Regions from separate parts of the Homo sapiens genome. Here region 1 is linked to region 2. A link means that fine-mapping ties the variant in region 2 to the expression of a gene that starts in the linked region. Tissue or cell type: amygdala. Region 2 holds a variant in brackets; the other region holds the start of a gene. All regions are shown on one strand. Distances are from middle to middle.

Evidence for each region. PIP is the estimated chance that this variant, and not a neighbour inherited with it, causes the effect.
Region 1: it holds the start of CYBRD1, and the variant in region 2 is fine-mapped to the expression of CYBRD1 in amygdala (GTEx, PIP above 0.99).

The regions. Positions count from the first base shown.
Region 1 is chr2:171,518,695-171,526,798 of GRCh38, reverse strand. It overlaps CYBRD1 (cytochrome b reductase 1), which reads right to left and starts at 4,325. Exons shown (of 4, transcript NM_024843.4): 1 at 4,061-4,325. The coding sequence starts at 4,253. RefSeq lists silencers at 3,687-3,756, 3,907-4,016 and an enhancer at 4,127-4,236.
Region 2 is chr2:171,214,696-171,222,799 of GRCh38, reverse strand. It overlaps a transcript of TLK1 not described here. Among named protein-coding and RNA genes, the nearest start is that of TLK1, 58 kb to the right of the region's middle. The variant G/A (reference allele first, on the strand shown) is at 3,915.

The DNA.
Region 1 (8,104 bases), 300 kb before region 2:
ACCCGAATTTTCTACCTTTCACTAAAGAACACATTCCACCTTGCTGAACCTTTTAAAAGGTCAACAGCCACTTTGACAGCGTTTATTTGTTTCAGTCTTTTCTGTGGCCCTCTTTTCAAGGTTCGTTTCTCTGATTTCCTAGTAGTATACTTATTTCATGGGAAACATTTCTTTCAGAGAAGCACAAAGCCTCTTCTAAACCCTTCCTCATTCATGTTAGAGTCTGTTAGCTAGATTTCCCACTAGTTTAAAATTTTATTTTAGTTTTAGATTTCCCATGATCTGTTATACTTTAATTTAGAATATATACATATTCCAAAATATACTTGGAGTATGGGAGGTGGGGAGAGAGAGGGGGAAAGGAGGGGAGAGAGAGGGGGAAAGGAAGGGAGAGGGACACAGAGGAGAAAATGGGACAAGGAGAGAGAGGGTGAGCGAGAAAGGGAAAGGGGAATAAAGAAGGAGAGGGAGATTTGTTTTGTAACTTCTATGTTAGCTTTGCTTCTTTGGAGTTTATCCCTCTTTTTTTTTCGAGACAGAATCTCACTCTGTTGCCCAGGCTACAGTGCAGTGGCACAATCTTGGCTCACTGCAACCTCCACCTCCCAGGTTCAAGCAATTCTCCTGTCTCAGACTCCTGAGTACCTGGGATTACAGGTGCCTGCCACCACGCCCAGCTAATTTTCGTATTTTTAGTAGAGACAGTGTTTCACCATGTTGGCCAGGCTGGTCTCGAACTCCTGACCTCAGGGGATCCACTCGCCTCAGCCTCCCAAAGTGCTGGGATTATAGGCGTAAGCCACCGTGCCCGGCCAGAGCCTACTTCTTTTTTTTTTTTTTTTTTTTTTTTTAGACGGGAGTTTCGCTCTTGTTGCCCAGGCTGAAGTGCAATGGCAAGATCTCGACTCACCGCAACCTCCGTTTCCCGAGTTCAAGCAATTCTCCTGCCTCAGCCTCCCAAGTAGCTGGACTGTGCCGGCCCAGAGCCTACTTCTTAAAGGTGTTTCAAAGGACTCATACTTGTTCTTAGTTTCAAATATTGTTTACTATTTGTATATTGCATTTCTAAAGCATTTTATACTTAGAGTAATAACTGTACTTTAGCCTTCTCTTCTTCATCTCCAAATATTTGTGTATTACAGAAGAGAAGAACTCCAATACATCGTGTTCTTTGTTAGAGATTTGAAATCTCATAGCCTAAAATTTTCCTCCTTGCAGCAATCACACACGGTAAAAAAGTCTGTTATAACATGGCGAGTCTGTAACATGTGGGTCCCTCGCAGCCTATAAAGTTTATTTATTACTCCCCCTCCTTCCACTGGAGCCTTCCTAATACTTAGGGTGAGGAATGTGGATGGGTTGGCCAAGATATGGAAGAACTGGGGAGAACTATACATGTGCCTACATGTATGAAAACATTTATGCTCATGTCAATTAAATGCATTATGATTAAAGTGATTTGCACATCCAGGATCCAAACAGGAAACAGGATGAGTAATGACGGGACAAACTCTGGACCATTGATACAAATACAGTAATTGAACCTAAAGAAAACAAGATCGGCCGGGTACTGTGGCTCACGTCTGTAATCTCAGCAGTCTGGGGGGCCGAGGTAGGCGGATCACTTGAGGTCAGGAATTCGAGGCCAGCCTGGCCAACATGGTGAAACCCCGTCTCTACTAAAAATACAAAAATTAGCTGGGCGTGGTGGTAGGCATCTGTAATCCCAGCTACTGGGGAGGCTGGGGCAGGAGAATTGCTTGAACCTGGGAGGTGGAGGTTGCAGTGAGCCAAGATTGCGCCACTGCACTCCAGCCTGGGCGACAGAGCAAGACTACGTCTTGAAAGAAAGAAAAAAAGAAACAAGATTTTCGTAAGAGCAGCAGATGAAAATTGCCAAAATTTACACATTTTTGTCCAAGAGTTAAGTATGAACAGATTAAGAGAAGTACAAAGTTTAGAGAAATTTAAAAACCTTTTAGAAAACCGTATATTGGACTCTAACATGAATGAAGAGTTTCAAAACATATTTTAGATGAAGGTTTTCGCTGTCTAAAAAGATTTGGCAGAAAATAAGCATATTGCCATAAAAGCAGAGAATCCAACTTTGACGATAAGGTCACTGAAAAGACTTAAAACAACTTTCATGGGTAAGTTACATAACTTCTCTGCCTCAGTTTACTCTTACATACATGTGATGTGACATAATGCACTTAGTGGACACACAGCATGCAATCACTATTAGCCATTCTGATGTCTTCTCCTCTGTGGCAAGTCAGGCAACGAGCAATAACACTTGTGTTTCCCTTACCCTCAATTATGAGAAGATATTCCAAGACCTCCAGAAAGCTTTTTGGTATTAGAAGCTGCTCTGAAGAGTTGGGTAGAAGAGGAGACTGGCTCTACTCTTTGAGCAAACAAGGTGTAGACAGCTCGGGGCCAAACTTAAGGGCTCCACCACGAAGGAAAGAGTGCTTCTGACAGTTACTTTGGAACTTGAGTATGTTTTTTTCTTATAAGCATAGTGGCAAAATAACTGAGAGTTACGCAACGAAATGCCTTAGGTGCCCAGTGGTGCTCACACCCTGATGCCGATCTCACACCCTGATGCCGATCTCACACCAGGGAAGCCTTTGAATGCTGAGGGTTAGTAACACCTTCCACTACATTCCAGAGTGGGAGAATGCTGGCCACACTTGCCAAAGCTGCAGTACAAGTTTAAAACAACCAACAAAAACAAAAGCCAAAATCACTTTTCTTTAGGAATGAGGTCAGCACTCTTTTGCACACTCGTTTGTGGGGAGTTAAATATTTGGTGAAGAAAAGGCAGCCTGCCCGCAGGCAAAGCTAGAGATTTCGGCCAGTGGGCATATCTTTCCAAACCCTTGCTACTCCTCTCGATTATTTTCTGCGACATAACACCACTCCACCCCTTGCTGCCTTTCTCTAACTACTTTCTGAAGGCCGTGCCTTTGGGGAAGTGGTTACAAATAAATGGTGTTTGCGCCAAAAGCTAGAGGTTCCTCCAGCTACACGGCAAACCGAAGGAAGCAGTCAGGACATTGAGAGGCACTACACAATGACAACAAACATTGCCAGCGACTGCTGAGCCCCTCCCCCGCGCCAGCCTCAGCCCAGAGAATGCAGGCCCGGGGCTGGCTCGCCGCGGGCCAAACACGGACGCAGCTTGCGCCGGGGGCATCCCGAGCAGAGGCATCCCTCGGTGCCAGGCAGCCGCGGGCCCTCTCCGGGCATCTCCCACCCGGAGTGCTGGGCCAGTGCCCAATAGGAAGCCCCGCGGGGGAACTTTCGCCACTCTTCTGCCACATAAACAAGTCGGGCTCAAGACCGTCCAATGACTGGGCAGGGCGGCGAAACACACTTGGAAGTCCTGGCAGCTTCCCGGACTCGACTGAGTTTAACACTCTAGGAGGAGAGGAACCCAGGGCGGATGCTTCACTCGCCCCCCTTGGCCAGCCCCTTTACCCAGGGCCGAGGATGTTACAAATACGGGCAAATTCTCGCTCCGGCAATCTTTTCCCCGCTGCCTTCCCCTCCTCATCTGCAGCCTGGAAGCAAGTTCAGCAAAAGGCTGAGGCGAAAGTGTTTCCGCGCCCCCGATCGCGCAGGCTCGGTCCACAGGGGCGACTTTCCGGGGCGCGTGGGCTGCAGCGGCCCGACTGCGCGGCGCTCCGGCATCGCGCCCGGGCTCAAGTTTCTGGGTCTTGGAGGCCCCTCCAGTGCGTCCTAGCCAGTCGCCGCAAAGAGTTAACCAAGTGGGGCCGGCCCCGCTCCGCCGCCCCCAGCAGCGCGTCTCCACCGCGCACCCCCGGCCCCGCGCTCGCGGCGATCCTCCTGAACCGCAGCTCTGTCCCGCCCCAGAGCCAGCCAGCCTCCCTCCCGCCCAGCCGACTTGGCTTCCCGCGCGCTCCTCACCGCACTCCTCCGGGCCCCGCGATCCTCCAGCACTTCCTCAGCTGGAAGGGGCTTCACGGAGGACCCTCTGCCCCCGCCGTTCTCCCCGCTTTCCTCCCCGCACCCCCCCAGGAGGTGCCAGTACCGATGCCCTGGATGAAGACGAAGCCGGTGACCATGAGCACTGGGTGCCAGTTAAACTCTAGTGCGCTCCCATCCCAGCCAAGCCCCTCTCGGTAGTGGAGGACCCAGACGAGGGCGAAGATCACCGACAGGAAGCCGACGAGCAGTGCCGACCCCAGCAGCGCCAGGAAGCGCCAGTAGCCCTCCATGGCCATCAGCGCCCCATACTCCGCACCGCGGGGGCCACAAGAACTTGGAGAGGCGGCGGCAGCCCTCTGGGTAGTGGCCGGGCGGCGGGACCGGGGCGTCGACTTCTTGGGGCTGTCTCCGCCTGCGGGGAGGGACTTTCTGGGCTGCTGGCCCGGAATGTGGGGCCTCTTGGGGGTGGGGAGCTGGCCCCAACTCAGAAATGGGCCCCACCCCCGGGATCACGCGGCCGCCGAGGGCGCTCATTGCCTGGTGGCCTCACCCTCTCCCTCGTCCAGCATCCAAGCTCGCAGAGGGCTTCAGTAACAGACCTAGTTAGTTGCTCAAAGAGAAAATTCCGAGGATTTTATACTCACCACTTGCTTTTAACACTTCCCGTGTCTCGTCCTTATTTGTGGGGAGGTTGAGTAGGGCAGTGGTGCGCCCTCTTGGTTAAGAGAAGAGAGGGATCCGTTGGGTAGGGTTATGTGTGTGCTTTTAACTACTAACGAAGCCTCCTTAGCCACAGTGCTGGAGAATTGGCTGTCTCTGACATCAAAGGGTGTTAAGGAGGAACCTGTAAGGTGGTGTAAACTAAAAATAAAATCCTAAGCCCCTCACTGACTGAATGGACCTCCTTGGCCAAGCAGACCCCAGAAAAACCTTAAAGCTGAGTTTCTAGCTACAGCCGGAAGGGAAGTCTACCCCCTCCATTTTGGAATTTAGACTCAACAGCTGACTAGCATTAATGTTTAAAATAGAAATCATAAGGCGGACAGAACAGACTCTTTGTAGCAATAAGACATCAAATTATAAAAAGGACCTAAGTCACACACTCCTACACTTAAGAAATAAACTATGGTCTAACTGCCACAAAGGTTTTCTTTTCCTCTAGAGGCTAAACAAGCACTGGCTTGAGATAAGCAATATTAAAACAATTACAACTTAATCAGTTCACAGATGCTGACCAGCTGAACCCCTGTTGCACCAGCCAGAACTACAGCTTTCACTGGGCTGATTTCAGGAACTTTTTCATGATAAGAAGACCGACCATGGACCGGTTCTGGCCAGTGTACAGGGATTGTGCACTTGTATGCATTCACGTCCTGAAAAGACCTTTTGAAGTGTAGGTTTGAAGTAATACATTTAAATGTATTTGAAGTAATACAATTAAATGTTAAGTCTCCACCCCAAAGAGAACATGTTACATGCATGTTTGTTCAATATGCATGTGTAAGGACCACCTCCATTAATATTCATAGCTCCTCCTGTAACCTGTTACGTATGTATGTTTGGCCAAACTGTTCAGCATAAAGCTCCTACCCCAACCCCTCTGCCTTCCAAGTGCCTGTCTCTGGTCTTAGGCCAGAGGCTATGTTTATCAGCCTATGGAATGGCCTCCTTGCAGGCTATAACCTTTTATAAGAAATAAAGTCTCCTCTTTTTTCAAATTTATAATTTTTTGTTTTAAGTTAACAGTAAAGGCCAGGCGCAGTGCCTCACACCTGTAATCTTAGCACTTTGGGAGGCTAAGGCGGGCAGATCACTTGAGTCCAGGAGTTTGAGAACAGCCTGGGCAACAAGGTGAAACCCTGTCTCTACTGAAAATACAAATGCATGCACCTGTAGCCCCAGCTACTTGGGGGACTGAGGAAGGAGGATCACTTGAGCCCAGAAGGTCGAGGCTGCAGTGAGCTGAGGTTGCACCACTGCACTTCAGCTTGGGTGACAAAGTGAGACTCTGTCTCAAAAAAAAACAAAAAACAAAAAACAAAAAAAACCCAGTAAACCGGGTCCCCATGAGGTGTCTCACAGCTGTAATCCCAGGGCTTTGGGAGGTGGAGGCAAGAGAATCACTTGAGCTCAGGAGAGGTATGATCGCACCACTGCACTGCAGCCTGGTGACAGCTAGACTCTGTCTGGAAACAAAACAAAAACAGCATGGGCAGCGGTGGGCTTGGCCTTATCCTGCAATGAAACTACTTGCAGTTTGCTCTTGAGAGAGGGAAGACAGGAACCTCCTGGACCTGGACTTGCCGTTTAGTGTGACAAATGGATTTTCAAAGTGCCCGCCCACCCAAACCAATTTGAACCAAAGCCCCTCCTTGATGAAGTGAAGCTTGCTCCCTGCCCTCTTTCCAACATTATCCTCACCCTTCTCCACTGGACAAAAACAATGTCAGCATTATCTAATGCTATTATAAGAAAAAGGGTTCTGACTGCCAGGGCTTCCAGAATGCATTTGGGAACGTTCACTTCTAGCCCTCTTCTGTAGCTCATCTCCAAGGACTACTTTGCTATATTGTCTTGTTGCCGTCTTGAAAGACCTTAGAATGTGCAGGAAGTATACGGGGATGATTTTCAAAGCAGGCTAAGGAAATAGGAGTGGCAAGCCATGGTAGTAGGGCAGGATTAAGGGCTCAGAGTAAAAGGCTGTAGACCTCACCTGTGTCATTATTTTTCCCTTGGTGGGGAGAGTAAGCAAATGGAAGAGAAGGATACCTTTCCCCAGCACAAGGCTTTCTTTGATCTGGTCCAGCCTAGCACCCCCTGCCAGTCTCTTACCACAACCTGACTGGCCCTGATGTCCTTGGCTGTAAACTGCTCTGGCAGCTTCTGACCACTTCCTACCCACGCCACTGCCTCTAAATTTCCCTGACCCCCATCTCCACTGAGAAACCTTCCCTGAGTCTGCCCCTGCCCAGACTTTTATATCCCACTGACCTCCCCATCCAGTGCCTCCTTGTGTCACCTGTCAGGATGTAATATAAGGATCTGCTTCTCTGGCTGTCTCCACTCTCAGACTGCCCTATTGAAGGCATTGATTCTCTAATTGATCATTTTATTCCTCCTTGGGATGTGGTAGTTACTCAATAAACATGTGTTGGGAGGCTAATGAGACTGAGTGTGTTAATCAGGGTCCTGGCAGAAAACAAACAGCATATTGGAATTGAGTAATTTCATAATGAACAAGACTGTTTATGAAGTTGTGGGCAGTGTAGGAAACCTCAGGGTTAGGCAGTGCCCCAGGTCTGAAGGGCAGAGAATTACTGGAATCCAGAGAGAAAATTGTGCGGAGGGGGAAGTCCGATAGAGGCCTTGAGTACAGGGATGCAGCCAGCCTGCAGAGACCTCATAGGGAGAAAGATGGAAGCAGATAAATATTCCAGCCTTACTCTTCTCCCCTCTGATCTTCTGCCTAGGGTGTCCCAGGGGCTAACCAGAACCTAATCAGAAGCCACAGGGCAGTCCATGTATCCATCCCAGGTCAACTTAGGGCACAGAGCAGAAGAGAGAAGAGTGAGAGCGGATCCCTAGGAATAAAAGGAAACTATCCCTGAATCTTCCGGTTTTATTTTTTCAGACCTTTTTTTGGTTCCTGAGTGCTGCAAACATTGCCTGTTTCATCTTACACTGATTCTTTTCCTTTGCGAACTTTAGCTTGTAATTCTATAATGACATCATTGTATCCCTATCCCTCTCCCTAAAAGTATCTAGTCTTTGTCCTCAATTAATGTTTTCACCCCATTGACCTAACACCTTCACTCCACTCTTGAGTTAATTTTGCTTCATAGCAGCAGCAGATGAGAATCTCTGGGATTCCAGACCCCATTTAACAAAACATTTCGGGAGGATGAAAACATGGCCAAATGGTACCAATGGTGTTGAATCATCTTGAAGTTATATGTAAAACTGAGAGAATTTCAACTTTTAAATTATCTTTTAAGAACCTAACTTTGATATTAAATAAAACTGTCACTGAGAAGGGGAAATTTTTCAATAAACATTGTTGTGGCTTACTGTTAACCTTTTAATTAATTAATTAATTATTTTTCTTTTTGAGACAGGGTCCCACTCTGTCACCCAGATTGGAGTGCAG
Region 2 (8,104 bases):
TTAATAATTTATATTGTATATCTCAAAATGACTAGAAGAGTAGAATTGGAATGTTTCTAACACAAAGAAATGATAAATGCTTGAGGTGATGGATATCCAATTATCTTCATTTGATCATTACACATTATATGGTTGTATCAAAATTTCACATGTCCCCCATAAATATGTAAACTATTATGTAGCCATAAAGATTTAAAAAGACCACTTTGGGAGGCAGAGGGGGGTGGATCACTTGAGCCCAGGCATTCAAGACTAGCCTGAGCAACATGGCAAAACCCTGTCTCTACAAAATACAAAAAAAATTAGGCAGGCATGGTGATGTGCGCCTTTGGTTCTAGCTCCTGGGCAGGCTGAGATGGGAGGATGGCTTGAGCCTGGGGATGTCAACACTGCAGGGAGCTGTGATCGTCCCACTCCAGCCTCGGCAACAGAGCAAGACCCTGTCTCAAAAATAAATAAATAAATAAATAAAAAAGAATTAGGAAATAGTAGGTTTTGCTTAATTACAAATTTACCCTGAAATCCCAAAGACTTAACACCACAAAGGTTTCTTTCTAATTTGTGATGCATGTCTAGTGGGACTGGGGTTGTCTTCCCACATAGCCATTCACAGACCCAGGATAAGGGAGTCTACAGCATTTTATAGCTGGCTTGTAGGTTGCCATGAGAAAAGAAGGGAGAATTGAAGGATCATGCATCAGCATTTAAAAGCTTCACTCAAAAGGGACATATGTATTTTTTGTCAACAGCTAATTGGCCAGAACCAGTCACACAATCCTGACTGACTATAAGAGGCCTGGGAAATGTTGAGGAACGCATGGGTATTTGGTGAGCAGTAAATGTGTCCTCCAAAAAATTCATATGCTGACGCCCTAACCCCCCATGTGACTGTATTTGGATATGGTGACTTGAAGGAGGTAATAATGGTTAAATAAGGCCCAATAAGGGTAGGGCCCTAACCGGATAGGACTAGTGCTCTTATAAAAAGAGACAGAGACCCCAGAAATGTTTTTTTCCATGTGTACAGAGGAAAGGTCATGTGAGGACACAGTGAGAAGGTGGCTGTCTCCAAATCAGGAGGAAAGGTCCTAACAAAAACCAACCCTACTGGCACTTTGATCTTGGTTTCCAGCCCCTAGAACTGTGAGAAAATAAATGTGTGTTGTTTAAGTCACTCGTTAAGGCAGCCTGAGCTGAGAAATATGCATCAGCCACGAAGAGGAAGGGAAGACTAGAAAAATAGATCGGACCATATTGTAGAATGCTTTAAATTAATCCATGTTTAATTTTTAGGCAATGGAAAGCTTTGGATTTTTAAAAAATAGCTTATAAAGCAATGCATCATCTTCTTTCCTCCAAGGTGTTCATGAAGTTTCGGTGAGGTGCAGGGCAGTACCACAATAGGCACTCCTTTAAATGTTTGATTCATAAGGATTATTGAAGTCATACGCCGAGCATCCAGCTCTGACCCCAAATCTAGTTCTTTTTCATTTTTTTGTTCCTTACGCTGTCCTTTCAGGGTAGTTCCCCAGATGAAAAGTGGGCCACCGTTACCAGAAGAAAAGCAAATGGACAGTGTCTAAGTAATGATAACAGATATTCATTACACTTCCTGGTAAAAGAAAATAAAGGATAACTATGACAAAACCAGAAATGTGCTCTCTGCTCCCAGAAATGTGGAATGCTGTGTGCCACTCAAGTCCATTACTTATTCCTAGAGATTATTAACATATAAGCCCCAATTTTTCTCTGTGGAAATTTGTTTCTTAAATTTTTTGTAGAGACAGGGACTCACCAACTTGCCCAACCTGGTCTCAAACTCCTGGGCTCAAGCGATCCTCCCACCTTGGCTTCCCAAAGTGCTGGGATTACAGACGTGAGCCTGGCCTCTCTGTGGAAATTGTAAAAATATATAATTTTATTTAAATATGTGGGTAGGATGAGGAGGTTTTGTTTATTTGTTTAGGATAGGGTTTTTAGGGGGTGAGAGGGGCAATGAAGGAGGCTTGGTTTCTCCTTCTCCCACATCACTACCTGTATTACAAATCACCTTCCCAACTTAATGACTCAAAAAAAAAAACAAACACTATCTTCATAGTTGTATGGGTGAGGGGAAACTTGGCTGGCTAGTTGAGCAGTTCTAAGTCTGCAGTCCTCTAAAGGCTTGCTTGACGATCAAGGATCTACTTCCAAGGTGTCACACTCACATAATTGGCAAGTTGGTGCTGGTTGTTGGTGGGAGGCGATAGTCCTCCCCATGTGGGTCTCTCTATGAGGCTGCTTGAGTGTCCCCACATGATGGCTTACTCTCAGAGCAAGCTACCAAAGGCAGCAAGGCAGAAACCGTAACATCCTTTATGACTTTGTCTGGAAATCATACACTGTCACTTCTGCCATATTATGTTTGTCACACAGACAGCTCTCATTCCTTGTGGGAGCTGACTTCGAAAAGGCATGAATATCAAGAGGCAAATCACCAGGGCTCATCTTGAAGGCTGGCTGCCATGCTGCTCCCTTCATATTGATGATGTAGTACACATCTTTGGGAGGCTGAAGAATGGTCCCTAAAAGATAGCAGGGCCTAATTCCCAGAACCTGTAAATGTTATCTTACATGGAAATGTTATCTTATATGGAAAAAGGGTCTTTGCAGATTTAACTAAATTAAGGATATTGAAATGGAAATATTATTCTGAGTTGTCCAGGTATGCCCTAAATGCAATCAGAGTCTTTCAAAAAGAGTACAATGGACAGAATGTTTGTGTCCTCCCAAAATTCCTATGTTGAAACCCTAACCCCCAAAGCGATAATGTTGGGAGCTAGAGACTTTGGGAAGTAATTAGGTCATGAGGTTAGAGCACTCATGAATTAAATTAGTGCCCTTAAAAAAGGACCCCAGAGGCCAGGAGTGGTGGCTCACACCTGTAATCCCAGCACTTTGGGAAGCCGAGGTGGGCAGATCACTTGAGGTCAGGAGTTTGAGACTAGCCTGGCCAACATGGCAAAACCCTATTTCTACTAAAAATACAAAAATTAGCCAGATGTGGTGGCACGTGCCTTTAATTCCAGCTACTCAGGAGGCTGAGGCATGAGAATTTCTTGAACCCAGGAGATGGAGGTTGCAGGAAGCCAAGATGGCACCACTGCACTCCAGCCTGGGTGATAAAGCAAGACCCTGTCTCAAAAAAAAAAAAAAGGTGGGGGGAGGGACCCCAGAAAGCTCTCTTGACTCTTTCTGCCATGTGAAAATACAAGACATTGGCAGTCTGCAACCCAAAAGAGGGCCCTCACCAGAATGTGACCATGCTGTCACCCTAATGCTGGACTCCCAGCCTCCAGAACTATGAGAAATACATTTCTGTTGCTTATAAGCCACCCAGCCTATGGTATTTTGTTATAGCAGCCTGAACTAAGACAGAGAGAGACAGAGGGAGACTCGATTCACACAGAAGAGAAGGCAATGTGACCACAGAGGCAGAGATTAGAGTGATGCAGCCACAAGCCAAGGAATGCCAGCAGCCTCCATAATTTGAAAGAGGCAAGGAATGAACTCTCCTGGAGACTACAGAGGGTGTGCAGCCCTGCCAACACCTTGCTTTTGGCCTAGTGAAGCTGATTTCAAACTTCTGGTCTCCAGAACTGAAAGAAAACAATTTTATGGGGTTTTGTTTTGTTTTAATAATTGGAGACTGTTTATTTTACTTTTGATATGGTTAGGAGCAAGGCCTTTAGAGTCAAATCGTCCTGGATTTGAATCTATCATTGTGATCTTGGGCATATTCTTGCACCTTATTTTTCTCCAAAATGGGGCTAGAAAACAATACCTACCTCAAAGGTAAAGCTTTAAAAAATTGTGGGTTTTTTGGCAAAATACACAAAATATAAAATTTACTATGTGCTATGGTTTGAATGTTT[G/A]TGTTCCCTCCAAAATTTAGGTTGAAACTTAATGTCTAATGCAAGGGTATTAAGAGGTAGGGCCTTTAGGAGGTGATTAGTTAATGAGGACTCCTCTGTCATGAATGGGATTAAGGCTCCTACAAAAGAACTTCACACAGTATTTGCCCCCTTTTTGCACTTTTGCCTCTCCACATGAGGACACTAACATGAGGGTTAGTCCCCCCAGAGGATGCAGCAACAAGGTGCCATCTTGGAAGCAGAGAGCAGCCCTTGCCAGACATCAAACCTGCTGGCACCTTGATCTTGGACTTCCCAGCCCCCAAAACTGCGAGAAATAAATTTCCATTGTTTATAAATTACCCAGTCTCAGGTATTGTGTTATAGCAGCATAAATGAACTAAGACACCAACTTTTTAAGTGTATAGTACAGTAGTGTTAAGTACATTTTCATTGTTGTACAACCAGTCTCTTCCAGAACTCTTTTCATCTGGCAAAACTGAAACTTTATACCCATTAAACGACATTCTATTCCCCTCCATCTCTAGCCTATGGGCAACCACCATTCTACTTTCCGTCTCTATGAATTTGACTACTCTGTTTTTTTTTTGTTGTTGTTATTTGTTGTTGTTGTTGTTGTTTGTTTGTTTGTTATGCGATGGAGTCTCCCTCTGTCACCAGGCTGGAGTGCAGTGATGCAATCTCAGCTCACTGCAACCTCTGCCTCTGGGTTTAAGCAATTCTCCTGCCTCAACCTCCCGAGTAGCTGGAACTACAGGCATGTGCCACCACACCTGGCTAATTTTTTTGTATTTTTAGTATAGACAGGGTTTCACCATGTTAGCCAGGATGGTCTTGATCTCCTGACCTTGTGATCTGCCCGCCTCCGCCTCCCAAAGTGCTGGGATTACAGGCATGAACCACCATGCCCGGCCTTACTCTGTTGTTTTAATACACCAAGTTTGTAGCAATTTGTTATAGCAGCCATAGGAAACTAATACGGTATTCTTCCCCATCTTTGTCCATGTTCATACAACTTTAAATATTCATAAATGTACACAAACAATTTTAGTCACACATATATATGCAGAAATTTTTGTTATTGCTTTATAAAAATAAGACCATATTACACGTACTCTTCTTTGTTCTCTCTTTTCACTCAACTTGTTTATTGAATTTTGTTCAGAATAATCATTTCACTCTGACTTTGGGCAAACCTGTTTCAAAGTACCTTTATAAGCTTTCATTAGATGTTAATGTCTGAAGCATGTTCAGAGTGCTTTCTCTGCCATCTGACAGTGGTGTCCTCTCAATTATCCAAGCCCTCATGATCAGCTTTGGGAGTTGTGTTCCTCCCTCCTGCTGTCTGCTTTTCATACCCTTCTCCATTCATTAGCGCCTCCACCAGAGGGGGGCAAGGAAATGGAAAAGAGGTGAAATACGACTCCCAAACTGACAAAGAGATCAATGGAACAGGAGGGTCCAGAAACCAGTTCTCAAAATGGTCATTTTTCCTTATGTTAGGGATGCTGGAAGAAACTTCAGTAATAATACCTCCCAAGTTACCTGTGGATTTGAGAGGGAGAATGGTATCTACTGTCTACTCTTGATTTGTAAGTTCGTTTGTCCCATTTTTATTATAATCATTGCAAAAAGCAATCCCTTCATAAATGTTGGAAGAATTCATTCAATCAACAAACACTTATTAAGCATCTATAATGTGGCAGCAATCATGCCAGGCTCTGAATGAATGAATAACTCAGGTTTTTGTTTCTTTCCCTAACAAGTGGGACTCCTGTTCTGTGGCACTGCTGTTGGAAGGTAGGAGGTAACAGTGAAAAAGTAGGGAGGATAAATGCATCAGTTTGGTATCAGTTTCCTAGGGCTGCCGTAAAAAAGTGCTACACACTGAGTGGCTTAAAATAACAGAAATGTGTCGCCTTATACTTCTGTGGGTTAGAAGTCTGAAATCAAGGCAGGGCTGCATTCCCTCTGAATCTTATAGGAAAATTCTTCCTTGGCTCTTCCAGCTTCTGATGGTTCGCTGGCTGTCTTTGGCATGCCTTGTCTTGCAACTGCATAACTCCAATCTCTGCCTTTGTTGTTACATGACGTTTTCCCTGTGTATCTTTGTCTTTACATGGCTGTCTTTTAAGAACATCAGTTATATTGGATTGGGGGCCCACAGTACTCCAGTATGAGCTCATCTTAACTAATTACAACTATAATGGCCCTACTTCTAAATAAGGTCATATTCTAAGGTACTAGGGGTTACGACTCCAACATATGTTTTAGGGGGTGAGGAGGGACACAATTCAACCCATAATAGTTTCTACTTGTCAAATAGACAAGTCAAATAAGACCTTGGAATTCTGGATTTCATTAATCTCGTAAGTTGTTATTCTCTGTTTTTTTGTTTTGTTTTGTTTTTGAGACGGAGTCTTGCTCTGTCGCCCAGGCTGGAGTGCAGTGGCATGATCTCGGCTCACTGCAAGCTCCACCTCCCGGGTTCATGCCATTCTCCTGCCTCAGCCTCCCGAGTAGCTGGGACTACAGGCGCCCACCACCACACCCGGCTAATTTTTTGTATTTTTAGTAGAGACAGGGTTTCACCGTATTAGCCAGGATGGTCTCAATCTCCTGACCTCGTGATCTGCCCGCCTCGGCCTCCCAAAGTGCTGGGATTACAGGCGTGAGCCACTGCACCCGGCCCTTGTTTTTTTAAGGCAGCATAGTGGTTAGTGTGCAACTCTGGAGCCAGAATTAGTTTGAATACTATCTTTACCTCTTATTAACAGGTATGACCTTGGGCAAGTTAACTAATTCCTAGTGCCTCAGTTTGCTGTCTGTAAAATGGAGATAATAACAGAATTTACAGAATTGTTATAAGGATTAAGTGAACTAATGCCAGGAAAGTCCTTAGAACAACGCCTGGCACAAAGAGAATCTTGATATGTGTTAGCTAATTTTATGAAAAATGAGGAACCATGAGTTGATTATTCTTGTAATCAATTCCCACTAGAAAGGGGTGGTGGTGCGCATATTGTTAAAGGGAATAAAGCGTTCCACCGCGTGCATGTACCCGCTGGGGCCTCCTTCTAAGAGGAACCGAACTTCCGAGGAGTGGGCAGCTGCTCACTGCCTATGCTACTAAATTGCCTTTCTTGGCCTCTGACAGACTATAAAGTCAAGAGACTTCCAAAGCCCCCAGAGAAATATTTCTTCTTTTGGACAACCAACCTCTGAAAAACAATTGATTGAAATGTTTTCAAGGAAAATATATCACTATTAGGGAAGCCTATATATATAATTTAAATTTCCTTTGGTTCCTTTTGGATTTCAACTTAAAATGACCTGTAGGCTCTATCAGAGTAAGAGCAATACATCACCGTGCCTGTCTTGGACATTCTTAAAGCAGATTTGCTCTGCCTAGTGTGACCTAACTCCAGCCACAGCAGAGCCTGAATGCAGACTTGATTCCCTCAGATCGCTGAGGAAAAAGAGCATCACAACTGACAAGACTTGGAGAAGAGCACTCTGTTCTGTATTTGTGTTGGAAACTAAACACAATAAGCCATCCTCTTTCCTATGAAACTGAATGTTAGTGTCTTTATGTAGGTGGAGTGGAAGGTGAGGTGGAGAGGATACTGAAAGAGTTGAGAGAGAGAGTGGGCACGGCGGCTCACGCCTGTAATCCCAGCATTTTGGGAGGCTGAGGTGGGCAGATCACTTGAGCCCAGGCATTTGAGACTAGCCTGGGCAACATAGCAAGTGCCCGCCTCTACAAAAACTACAAAAATTAGCCAGGTGTGGTGTTGCCAACCTGTAGTCCCAGCTACTCGGGAGACTAAGATGGGAGGATTGCTTGAACCCAGGAGTTAGAGGTTACAATGGGCCATGATCATATGACTATACACCAGCCTGGGAGACAGAGCAAGGCCCCGTCTCAAAAAAAAAAAGAAAAGAGTTGAAAGAGAACATGATTGCAGGCGGAGTCAGGCTTCAGTTGCTGAATCAAGGCCCATTGTCTTGACTCACTTAAACATCACAGAATTCTTTAGCTGGAAGACCTTGAGGGGTTACTAATTCAGGAGTTGAAGCAAAGTATAGAAAGTAATTTGTTAGAAATAATAAAAGTGCAGCTTATGACTGATTGATTAATTACTAAATTCCAGGGGATTCTAAGTTCTTATCATACATTGGTCCTCAAA